3 linked regions of the Homo sapiens genome follow. The protein of the gene in region 3 interacts with the protein of the main gene of each other region in a pairwise test. Each region holds a gene or a part of one and is shown on either strand. Other genes may lie near its edges. The genes, in order: KCTD17, TRIM69 and ALB.

What was found.
Region 1: the proteins of ALB (region 3) and KCTD17 interact in binary tests that used the Homo sapiens proteins (3 or more experiments, as listed by UniProt).
Region 2: the proteins of ALB (region 3) and TRIM69 interact in binary tests that used the Homo sapiens proteins (3 or more experiments, as listed by UniProt).

Annotation. Positions count from the first base shown.
Region 1 is NC_000022.11:37,049,931-37,053,755, forward strand, and holds the start of KCTD17 (BTB/POZ domain-containing protein KCTD17), read left to right. Parts: upstream 1-1,811; 5' UTR 1,812-1,830; coding exon 1,831-2,019; intron 2,020-3,169; coding exon 3,170-3,278; intron 3,279-3,825. UniProt on the Homo sapiens protein: Substrate-adapter for CUL3-RING ubiquitin ligase complexes which mediates the ubiquitination and subsequent proteasomal degradation of TCHP, a protein involved in ciliogenesis down-regulation.
Region 2 is NC_000015.10:44,734,674-44,738,273, forward strand, and holds the start of TRIM69 (E3 ubiquitin-protein ligase TRIM69), read left to right. Parts: upstream 1-1,854; 5' UTR 1,855-2,031; coding exon 2,032-2,037; intron 2,038-3,600.
Region 3 is NC_000004.12:73,414,081-73,417,905, reverse strand, and holds part of ALB (albumin preproprotein), read right to left. Parts: intron 2,872-3,825; coding exon 2,739-2,871; intron 1,651-2,738; coding exon 1,553-1,650; intron 376-1,552; coding exon 237-375; intron 1-236. UniProt on the Homo sapiens protein: Binds water, Ca(2+), Na(+), K(+), fatty acids, hormones, bilirubin and drugs. Its main function is the regulation of the colloidal osmotic pressure of blood. Major zinc transporter in plasma, typically binds about 80% of all plasma zinc.

The sequences.
Region 1 (3,825 bases), on a different chromosome or scaffold from region 3:
TTTTCTATCGTTTTATTTTTTTAAAATAGAGATGGGGGCCAGGCGCAGTGGCTCGCACCTGTAATCCCAGCACTTTGGGAGGCCAAAGTAGGAGGATCACTTGAGCTCAGGAGTTCAAAACCAGCCTGGCCAACGTGGTGAAACCCTATCTCTACTAAAAATACAAAAATTAGCCAGGCGTGGTGGTGCATGCCTGTCATCCCAGCTACTCAGGAGGCTGAGGCATGAGAATTGCTTGAACCCAGAAGGCAGAGGTTGCAGTGAGCTGAGATGGTGCCACTGCACTCCAGTCTGGGTGAGAGAGTGAGACTGTATCTCAAAAAAGAAAAAGAGAGAGAGAGAGAGAGAGAGAGAGAGAGAGAGAGAGATAGGGGTCTCACTATGCTGTCCAGGCTGGTCTTGAACTTCTATGCTCAAGCGAGCCTTGGCCTCCCAAAGTGCTGGGATTACAGGTGTGAGCCACCGCACCCAGCCTACGCTAGATGTTTATAGACATTTCATAACTTAATCTTCACAGCAATGCTCTGGGGTCACAACTGTTGTAAATCCCATTTGGCAAGAGAGAAAGCCAATCTCAGAGAGGAAGTTGCTCAGGACACACCTAGTGAATTTTAAGTAGCAGGATTCCAGTACACCTTTGATCCACTCCCTGCCAAGGAGAAAAGCTTTATGCAGAAAGCAGGGCATTGGGTGGTAACAGGGAAACTTCTCCCAGCACAGGGCCAGGCTGCCCAGTGTTCGGGCCAGCTGCGTGTGACATTGGATCAGTGAGAGGAGCCCCAGACCTCTCCCCCATAGGCCAGGACCAGGACTGAAACCAGTAAGGAGAGGAAGCTAAGGAGACAGCTTCCTCGTCAGCCCTTGTCCCTCCCTGGTCCCGGACCACATGAGGAACTGCTCCCTTCCCCCATCCTGAGGTCCACAGAATGACGGTTCCCCTCCGAGTTAACTGGGGAATAACTCAGAAAGCCACCCGCAGAACCAATCCCTCCTCCTTCTTAGGGAGGACGTGGAAAAACTGAGAAAGGCCAAAAGCCAGAATGGAAACTCAGTTCTCCTGACTCGGATCCAGGGCGTGCTCTACTCTTCCTCCTTAGAAGTCTTTCCCAAGGATCCCTGACATTCCATGGTCAGGGAGCAGGAAAGAGACCTTGGTGGGTACTCACTCACCAGCAATGTGAGTAGGGCGGTCACTTCGCTTCTGTGGCTTCATCTGTAAAATGGGTATAGCCCAAAATACCAGACTCACAGGGCTGCTGAGAGCTTAAATTCATAACACATATACACAAAGTGTCTGGCATACAGGTGCTCAGCCAACCTCAAGTCCAGCTATGTCGTTCTCCAAGAACTCAGGTGAGGGAAAGAACCCACTCCCACCCACCCCGCCCCCACCCCTATACACACAAAGGGCAAATGAAAAAATATGACGAAACACATGCGGGTCAATGCTATGGGGATTCCTGGAGGGGAAAGTTTCTTCCCTTATCAGCTGTTGGACGACGGAGACGGCACAAAGGAAAAACAAGAATGCTCGGACCCATGGGATGACTGCAGATTTGGGGAAGCCCTCATTCTTTTCCCAGAGGCCGGGAGTTCGACCTTCCCCATACACAGTGATTTGGCCAGAGGGCATCTTCACCACCCCAGACTGCGGGCCTGCGGGGAAGGGCGAAGCGGGGCGGGACCGGGGGCGGGAGCAGCGCGGGGCGGGACCCTACCCGCGGCCCACGCGGAGCCAGGAGGCGCGGACTACAGCTCCCGGCCTGCCCCGCGTGCGGTCCCCGCCCGCCCCCAGCGCCCGGGAGGAGGATGCAGACGCCGCGGCCGGCGATGAGGATGGAGGCCGGGGAGGCAGCGCCGCCGGCGGGGGCGGGCGGCCGCGCCGCAGGCGGCTGGGGCAAGTGGGTGCGGCTCAACGTGGGGGGCACGGTGTTCCTGACCACCCGGCAGACGCTGTGCCGCGAGCAGAAGTCCTTCCTCAGCCGCCTGTGCCAGGGGGAAGAGCTGCAGTCGGACCGGGTGAGGCCCCCGGGGTGGGCGGCGAGCGGGCGGTGGGTCCTCCGCTCGCCCGACGCGGGGCTGTCGGGCCTGGCTCGCCCGCCAGGCTGGGGACCCGGCCGGGTTCATTTCCGAGGAACTGGAGGCGGGAAGAAGCGGCAGGAGGAGGGGAGGGGGAGGTGGGTCTGGTAGTGAGGGATGTACCCATTGCCGTGGCAACGGGACGACGCAGGCCGCGGCCATTAGAAGCTCTCCAGCCGCCCCGGATCGGGGCCTCTCCTTCTCCTTTGGGGCTGTGGACAGGGAGAGACCTGGGACCTTTCCTCCCTCCCAAAGGGGACTCCTGCTCTGGGGAAGGAGTCGACGAGGCTACTTCTCCCGCTCTTTGGGATGTGGGTGGCGGAGGGGTGCAGGGAGCTAGCTGGATGGAGGAGCCCTGGGGCGCCTTCTGAGCGGGCTGAATCTAGAAGGAGCGTTGGCCCAGCGGGCACTATTTCTGAGCACCCACCCTGACTCTGCTGCACACTGCCTGCCGCGACCTTGAGTCGGACCCTTCCCTGCACTGCGCTCAGCCTCCTTCCTCATCTGTAACACGAAGGGCTGGTCTGAAGATGACCTCTAAGGTCTCCTGTCCCCCATCCGTGACCCTCCGATGCTGTGGCCTTTGGCAAGTCGCCTCACCTCTCAATGTCTCCGATCTCTCTGTAGAGTCGCATGGAAGCCCACCCTGCCTCCCTGCCCGCCCGAGTGTCCAGTGAGATAGTGACTCCTTTGGAAACTTGTAAACATCCCCTGAAAGCCTAGGGACCTGGGGGCGACAGTGGGGCTGGCTTCAGGGGACAGCCTCTCAGAGGGACATTCTTCGAGCCCTGTGCTGGGCCAGTTGCCACTCAGACATCCTCTCACCGGATGCTCACAGCAAACCCTGATTAGGGGGAGAGGAGTGAGTTTCAAAGAGGCCAAATCATTAGCCTAAGGTCACACATTCAGGAAGAGTCAGAAGCAGGGCTTGAACTCAGGTCCATCTGACCCCAGTGCCTTTTTGCTACTTTGTGCCTGCTCCATCCAGGGAAGAGCTCTCCCTCCACTCTCCTTCCCTCCCTGTGCGTGTGCGGGGTTGGCTGGGGAGAAGCCTCACTCTTCTCTCACCGAGCATCCCTCACCTCCATAGGATGAGACCGGGGCCTACCTCATTGACCGTGACCCCACCTACTTCGGGCCCATCCTGAACTTCCTCCGGCATGGCAAGCTGGTGCTGGACAAGGACATGGCTGAGGAGGGTGAGTTGGTCCAGGGGGCTGGCCTGGACCTTATGCAGCCTGCCAGGGCCCTCTGTGGAGGCCCCAAGCCATTTGGACAACCAGGACGGCCATCTGCCTGCTTGGTTGTTTCCTGCCTCTTCCCAGTCGGACGGGGCTGATTCCCAAGCATCTGCCTGTGCCGAGCCTGGGGCTCTGCCAAGCGGACGGGCTCAAGCTTTCCCTGGGTACTGTCAGGGAGGTGAAGAGACACATGTGCAGGGGATAGAGGAAGTCAGCGAGGCCCTGTGGCCTCTGCTGTGGGCTGTGACGCCCTTTCTCTCTGGCCTCCTAGGAAGCCAGGTGTGGACGGTCACATCCGGAGGCTGGGGTGACAGGAATGCAGTGTTGACAGGCATGGGGAGAGCTCTGTCTCTCTTTCTCTGGCTGATCCAGTATCTCAAATTCTGCCTGGTGAGGGCTTGTAAGTGGGTGGAGCGGGTGACTGTTCACTAAGTCTGGCAGCCTGTGCGGCACAGTGCTGGCTGTGGGTGGAGGCAGGAGAGGGGGGAGTCTGCTTCCCAGTGGG
Region 2 (3,600 bases), on a different chromosome or scaffold from region 3:
TAGGAGTTAAATGTCTTAGCTAAGGCTATTCAGTGCTCTGGTGGTGAGAGACAAGGCTTCCATCTTCTAGGCCAGTACTCTTACCCCTAGGCTAAAGGTTCAAAAATGTGCAGGCGCTGGCTTTAGTAAAATCAGCTATACTAAGCATTGTCAAATGTTTTAGCCAACAACAAAAACAATCAAGATGAAACAAAATTACTTTTTTGACTAAGTGATCACCAGCATTTCATAGACATTTATCTGACAAAGGTTTTGATCTAACAAATGCCATGTATTGCCAAGGTGAGCAAGATACAGTACTACCTATCCTGTGGTTTGTTCACAACTTAGTGGAGGGGCAGACATGCAATCAAACAATTAGAATACACTCTGTTAAAGCCACGTGTACAAAGATCTAGGGTGCTATAGAAATGTGTAAAACTAGGCCAGGCGTGGTGTTGCTCACACCTGTAATCCTAGCACTTTGTGAGGCTGAGGTGGGAGGACAGCTTGAGCTCAGAAATTTGAGATCAGCCTAGGCAACATAGTGAGACCCTGTCAGAAAGAAAAGAAAAAAGAAAAGAAAAGAAGGAAAGAAAGAGAAAGAGAAAGAAAGGGAGAAAGAAAGAAAGAGAGCAAGAGAGAAAGAAAGAGGAAAAAGAAAGGAAGAAAGAGAAAGAAACAGAGAGAGAAAGAAAGGGAGAAAGAAAACAGAAAGAGAGAGAAAGAAAGAAAGAGAAAGAAAAAAAGAAAGAGGAAAGAAGGAAGGAAGGAAGGAAGGAAGGAAAGAAGGAAGGAAGGAAGGAAGGAAGGAAGGAAGGAAGGAAGGGAGTAAAGCTGTGTTTCTCAACTGGGGAGTGATTCCAACCCCTGCCCCCAGGAGACATTTGGCAATGACTGGAGACATTTTTGTTATGACTGGGTTTGGTGGGGGGGGGGTGGCTACAGGCATCTAGTGTGTAAACGCCAGGGACACTGCTAAATATCCTAAAATTCACAGGACAGCCCCTCTAACGTAAGACTTAGCAGGCCCAAAATATCAATAGGGCTGAGGTTGGTAACCTCTGGTATAGAGCCAGCAAAATATCTTCTACAAGAGACAGGGAAGTGGGTAAAGCTTGGTTTGGGGATGAGGGGGTGGTTAGGGAAGAGTTTAGTAAAGAGATAATGACGGGGGTGTGGGGGAAGGGAAACTCCCATCCGAAGGGACAACATATACAAAGCTGCAGAAGCGTGACATATTTGGGCGATCCCAAACACTGGGGAAAGAGCTGTGGTCATTAAGTCTGGACAGCTAGGCAGGAGCTAGACGTGCAAGAAATCATATTGAGTTAGAGGAACTACTGTAAGAAAAACTGTTTGGCTCTGTGGTGGCTCTTTATAAGTCACTCAGGAGCACAGTGTTGGTACATCTCTCTGCGAGCTAAAACTGCTGAAGAAAGCTGTATGAAATGAAGCTTTTTTCATCCTGCTTTCTTAGGGCCTGGTGTTTCCCAGGCCTGTGTTACTGTCTCAGAGATAAAATCAGGGCTGCTTCATTGGAATATGAGAGGTGAACTAGCTCTCTATTAAAGCCACTCAGCTGGTGTCTTGATGGTGTGATGGGATCATGAACAGGGGTGAGGTGGTTATTTTTCATGAGTTAGGCTTAATATAGGCTGCTGCTGACGTGTATTTCCTCTTTCATAGAGCATCCTTAGTCCAGAAATGGGGAGCTATGAACCTTAAGATTAGACCACTAACTCGAATCTAAATGAGCTGCCCTTGTCTCCTACAAAAGAAAAGTTGGGCAGGTAGGGTATTCTAATGAGGGTTTCTCTTTCTCTTAAGCAAATGATGATCAAAGTTAACTGACAAACTGTCACGGAATCTGCCAGACCTCACTCTGGCCTTGCTGCTTCTCTCCAGCTCCTGAACTTTTCTTTCTTCCATCATGCTCTGAGCCCATTCCTTGAAAACTAAAAGGTCCCTGACTCCCAGTCTGCAGCCATCCTGGGCCTGCTGAGCTCTGATTCAAGTGCCTGCCTCTGCCCCTTGGTGGGCTGAAGCTTCATGGAGGTGAGTGACCCTTTTTTTTTTTAACTTAGCAGGGCTTCTAGGAATAGTGTGGAAAACAGGATCATAGAAGAGGATATGGATTTAGGAGCACAAAAGGAAATTCATGAAGGGAAGTATTTAACTTGTGACAGCTGGTAGCTACTATACTCTCTCCAAGCCTTGGAATAACTGATAATTTATACTAGAGAAGCTGGTAGGAAAGTAATGAAATCCACCAAAACATTTTGAGAAAAAATAAACTATATACTATATACAATTTACTTTCATTATCAATGTAATCATTTTATTTTAGATTTAAAAATTATTATGTATAACTTGGTTTGCTTACAATACCTTCACATTTGATTATTTTATATTTAAGGCAGAGTTGATACTTAGATAGTAAACATTTTTAATTGAATTCTTCCTTTAAGACCTCTTCAGAGCTAAAATAAAGGAAGTTATGTTCTTCTGAACTTAGTGTTTTCCTGATTGTCAAACAAAAGAAAATGGTTATTTACTACATGAAAGCTTGAAAAACTCACTAAGGGTTTTTCAGGGGCCCTTGAATCCTGAGTTATCATCCATTTCCACTAGTTTCCACTTCTTATAAAGTTTAATTTCATTATATTAATCATTAAGATCAGTTTCTAATTTCCTCTATCATAGGACCTTTAGGTTTGCTGCTACTCATCTCTGTGCTTAGCTATTGAAGCAAACAGGGCTATAAGCATTTTGTTTATAATTTCTAGGGCAAAAATAAACACTATTGCCTAAACCTACTATATTCTTATTACTTTAAGGCCAAGTCAGTGAAAATAGACACTTTTCCATAATAGTAAAAAAATTGTTTGTGTGATAGTGAGTTTCCCATTACTTCAGATGTTCAGGCAGAGGTTGGAAAGGAGTGAATTAAATGGCTTAAAATTTCTTTCAACTCTGGGAAGCTCCAAGAAGTCAGAAAGTTCAGAATCTTGCCTTCTTATGTGCAAATGGCTTGACTCGTGAAGCAGGAGTGTGTCTTGCTCTTAGGTTTAAGCTGGCTGTGCTATATAGTTTGTCTCTGTGGATGAACTGTATTTTTCTGCTCTCAAAGTTAATTCTTCATAAAAACTGCCCATCAAAGTTTAAAAATTACTTTGAAGGAATAAAGGTTGAAAAGCAACAAATGAACTCTCCTTAGATATCTTAACTATGATTTCAAAAATTTACAACACAAAACTTCTCAGGAAAAAAAAATCTCTGGTAAAAATTAAGGATTTCTTATGCAAGCTTCCATGGACTTCATAGCTCTTTGCCTTTTCTCTGCTCTTTGAGAATGTGCACAGTGAACTGAAGGAGGAAGATACATACTTTCTTTCTTTCTTTTTTTTTTTTTTTTTTTTTTAGGACAGAGTCTCACTCTCTTGCTCAGGCTGGAGTGCAGTGGCACCATCTCAGCTCACTGCAACCTCCGCTTCCAGGGTTCAAGTGATTCTCATGCCTCAGCATCCCAAATAGCTGGGACTGCAGGGACGCACCACCACGCCTGGCTAATTTTTGTATTATTATTTTTTTTTTTAGTAGAGATGAGGTCTCACCATG
Region 3 (3,825 bases):
CTGCACTCCAGCCTGGACAACAAAGCGAGACTCCGTCTCAAAAAAAAAAAAAAAATTATCATCCTCGGGGCCTTGACTGCCAATATCACACATACACACACGTGCATGCACACACACATGCACACAAACATGCACACACACACATTACTTCCTTCTGCTTATGAAAGCTAGCATTATCAATATCTAAAGGTAAAATTTTTTCATTATTAATTTATTATATTTTTTTAAAGACTCACATAGTCTTCTGCACAGGGCATTCTTTTTGCTTCAGGATGTTTACAACATTTGCTGCCCACTTTTCCTAGGTTTCTTGAGACCTCTACAAGAGTTGGAGTTGACACTTGGGGTACTTTCTTGGTGTAACGAACTAATAGCCTGAAAAAAAGAAGTCATGTGTTTTCAGCAAGGCAAGAAACTGTCTAACATAGTAGATAAAACAGAGAACACTTGGCCGGAATCAACTAAGATGTTGCTATGTTCCATTCATCATATTATCTCCATCTGCAGAGTAGTGGGTTAGTGGAGGGTAGAAAACATTCTCCTGAACAACTAGTTAAACTTGGCTTTGAGTTCCACCTGTACCACTTGCATAATCTTGGGAAAGTGAGTTGCCTAATTCAGTGACATTAATAAATTTATTAATTTCTTCTTTCAATAAAACCTGGAGAGAGCTTCATATGTATCAGCATATGCTAAACTTGAAAGATACAAGTAGAAAATGGAAGGAAATATATCTGACTCAATAGGGATAGTTCAAGGGTTAAATTAAAAGTAGTAAAGTATTATAATTAATCTGACATGGTACCTAATATATAATAATCATGTATTAAGAATGCCAGTCACCATTAAAAGTCAATGTATGACTTTAATCTACTCGAGGAAAGAAACTATGTCTTGTTCACTGTTATTATCTCTAAAATCCATAATCAGAAGAGCACCATGTGTATGAGCCACACAATAAATATCTACTGTATAATATGTCTCTTCTTGTTTTTAACCTTCATAGATAAGACTCTATTGAATTGGGACATTAGTCCAGCAAGCCATTCTGTCTCTGTCTCTTCTATGGAGGGAAAGGTTTAACCATCAAAGACTAGGTGCATCTCCCAAACAACCTGAATTTAATATTCAAATATGTATCTAAATTCATTTGTTACATTTTTGTGTTCAGCTTACATATTACTTTTTGAGCGACATCTATTCAAGGCCTACTACTTGCTGCTCTACAAAATATTGCCATGCTCTATTTGCCCATTAACTATTTCTTAACCTTCAAGGGACATGCTCAGTTCTGATATACCAAGATTTGGTATTTACCCTCCCAGCCTACATACTTCCAATCTTAAGAGAACAATTTTTAGACTACATTCAAATATAGACCTCTCCACCCCATCAACTATTTTATCTCTCCTCTCCTATCTTTCTTGACAAAGAGTGATTAGAAATATGCAATGTATTTTCATTCTTAAAAGTTCTATGCTAGGTGGCTCATATATTAAGTCTTAAATAATTACAAATTGATAAAAAAAATCAGTCAATAAAAATTACTTACGCATTCTGGAATTTGTACTCTCCAAGCTGCTCAAAAAGCTCACAATTTTGTTTGATTAAATTCTGAGGCTCTTCCACAAGAGGTTTAAATTCATCGAACTGAAACATAAAAGAATTGTGTTAATAGTATTATGCCTCAGGATCAGATGCAGGTTGTTTTTCACCCCTCTGGTCAGAATGATATCCTTTCTTCTTCCTACTCAAAGCCACATGAATAGATGAATATCAATGCCGCTCTGTCACAATACATTCGAACTATTTATTTGGTGAGCTTGCATCATGTAAGTGGTTAAGAATATTCAGGCTCTGGAGTTCAATGACCAGTATTTGAGCCAAGTCATGTAACTCATTCTTCAGTTGTGCAATTTTACTTACCATCTCCACATTTCAGAATCCTTATCCCTAAAATAGGGGCAAAGATGGCACTCATCTCATAGAGCTGCTCTGTAAACCAGGTAAGCTAATGAAATTAAACAGTGCCTTGCATATAATAAAAGTTTAATAAATGATGGCTATGATTGTACATATTATTATTATTAGTTCACCTTTCCAGTTAGATTCCAGGCTCTCCAAAATGAGAGATTTTACGTTGGTCATTGTTTGTGCATGGTGCCTGGCATACAGTAGCTTCTTGAAAGCAGGAAAAATGAGTTTTCTCTGATTCTGAATAGTTCAGAAACCATTACATATGCTAGTGGGAACCCTAAAAATCCTCCAGAACAGATTTCCTCTCCTAACTTAATTTCTTGTAAAACTATTCCTAAACATCCTCAAAAAGATTTGAAAATATTCTAAAGGGATAGGTTCTATAATTTGCCATAAGATACTAATTCTAGTACTTGATTAATCCTGGAATCAGGTTAACTCACTTTACATCTAAGTTAAATATCTTCTAATTAACATTTAAATTTAATTTTTTTTTGTTCTCAGGATTGTGAAAAAGAGAAAAAAAGATCAAAATTTTTTAGAGATTGCTCTATTCAGATCTTTCTATTCTAACTAGTCTAAATTTTGTTAATCATTCTAAGGCTACTTTTTCTTTCATGTTTAAGATTCCAGAATTGAAACCATCTCAAGAAAAGATCTAAATTGCACTGTATATCATTTTACATTCTTGCATTATTTTTCTTTCTCATTATTGGAATCATCAGTCAAAGAACTACATTTTTTTCCAACAATAAACCTACCACTTTGGCATAGCATTCATGAGGATCTGCAGCGGCACAGCACTTCTCTAGAGTGGTTTCATATGTCTTGGCAAGTCTCAGCAGCAGCACGACAGAGTAATCAGGATGCCTTCTTGCATATTCATACAAAAACCTAATTAAGATGAAAATAAAATAGACTTTGTTGGACAAATGAGCACAAAAAATATCACAAAGCTAATCTCAAAAGTAACTCATATTCCAAAAGTCTTAATTTGACTAAACCCCATGCAGTAAAGCTTAGTAGCTAAGGACTTGGGGTCCAGAGTTAAAGTTACCAAGGCTCAATTCCTAGCTCTGCTACTTATATCACTGCATCACCTTAGGCAACTTATTTAAATGATCAGAGCCTTAGTCTCCTTCTCGGTAGAATGGAAATAATAATAGTATCTGTCGGCTGGGCACAGTGGCTCATGCCTGTAATCCCAGCACTTTAGGAGGCTGAGGCAGGCATATCACCAGAGGTCAGGAGTTTGAGACCAGTCTGACCAACATGGTGAAACCCCATCTCTACTAAAAATACAAAATTAGCCAGGCATGGTGGTGCATGCCTGTAATCCCAGGAGGCTGAGGCAGGAGAATCGCTTGAACCTGGGAGGCGGAGGTTGTGGTGAGCCGAGATGGCACCATTGCACTCCAGCCTGGGCAACAAGAGTAAAACTCTGTCTCAAAAAATAAATAGTATCTGTCTCGGAAGGTGGATTATGAGAACTATATGACATAATCTACACAAAGCACACACTGCTTGGCACATATGAAGTCTTTGATGAATGATACTTGTTATTTTTATTAACATTTTGTTTGATTTAAACTACATCTCAAAAGGATTCTGATAAATAGATGGGCAGAGATATGTTCTTAAAATATTCTCTTTCTTCTCTGTATGAGTGAAATCTTGTAGGGTACATAATTTTAGGAAATATTATTTAGTGCATTATCATAATCCAACAACAAAAATGCAGTTTATCACCACAACTTCTGACAATATGTAAACATTTATTTTGTAATTGAGTTGCCTACCATATTGCCATTATACTGAACTTCTGGTCTTTTCACCAAATATAAAGCA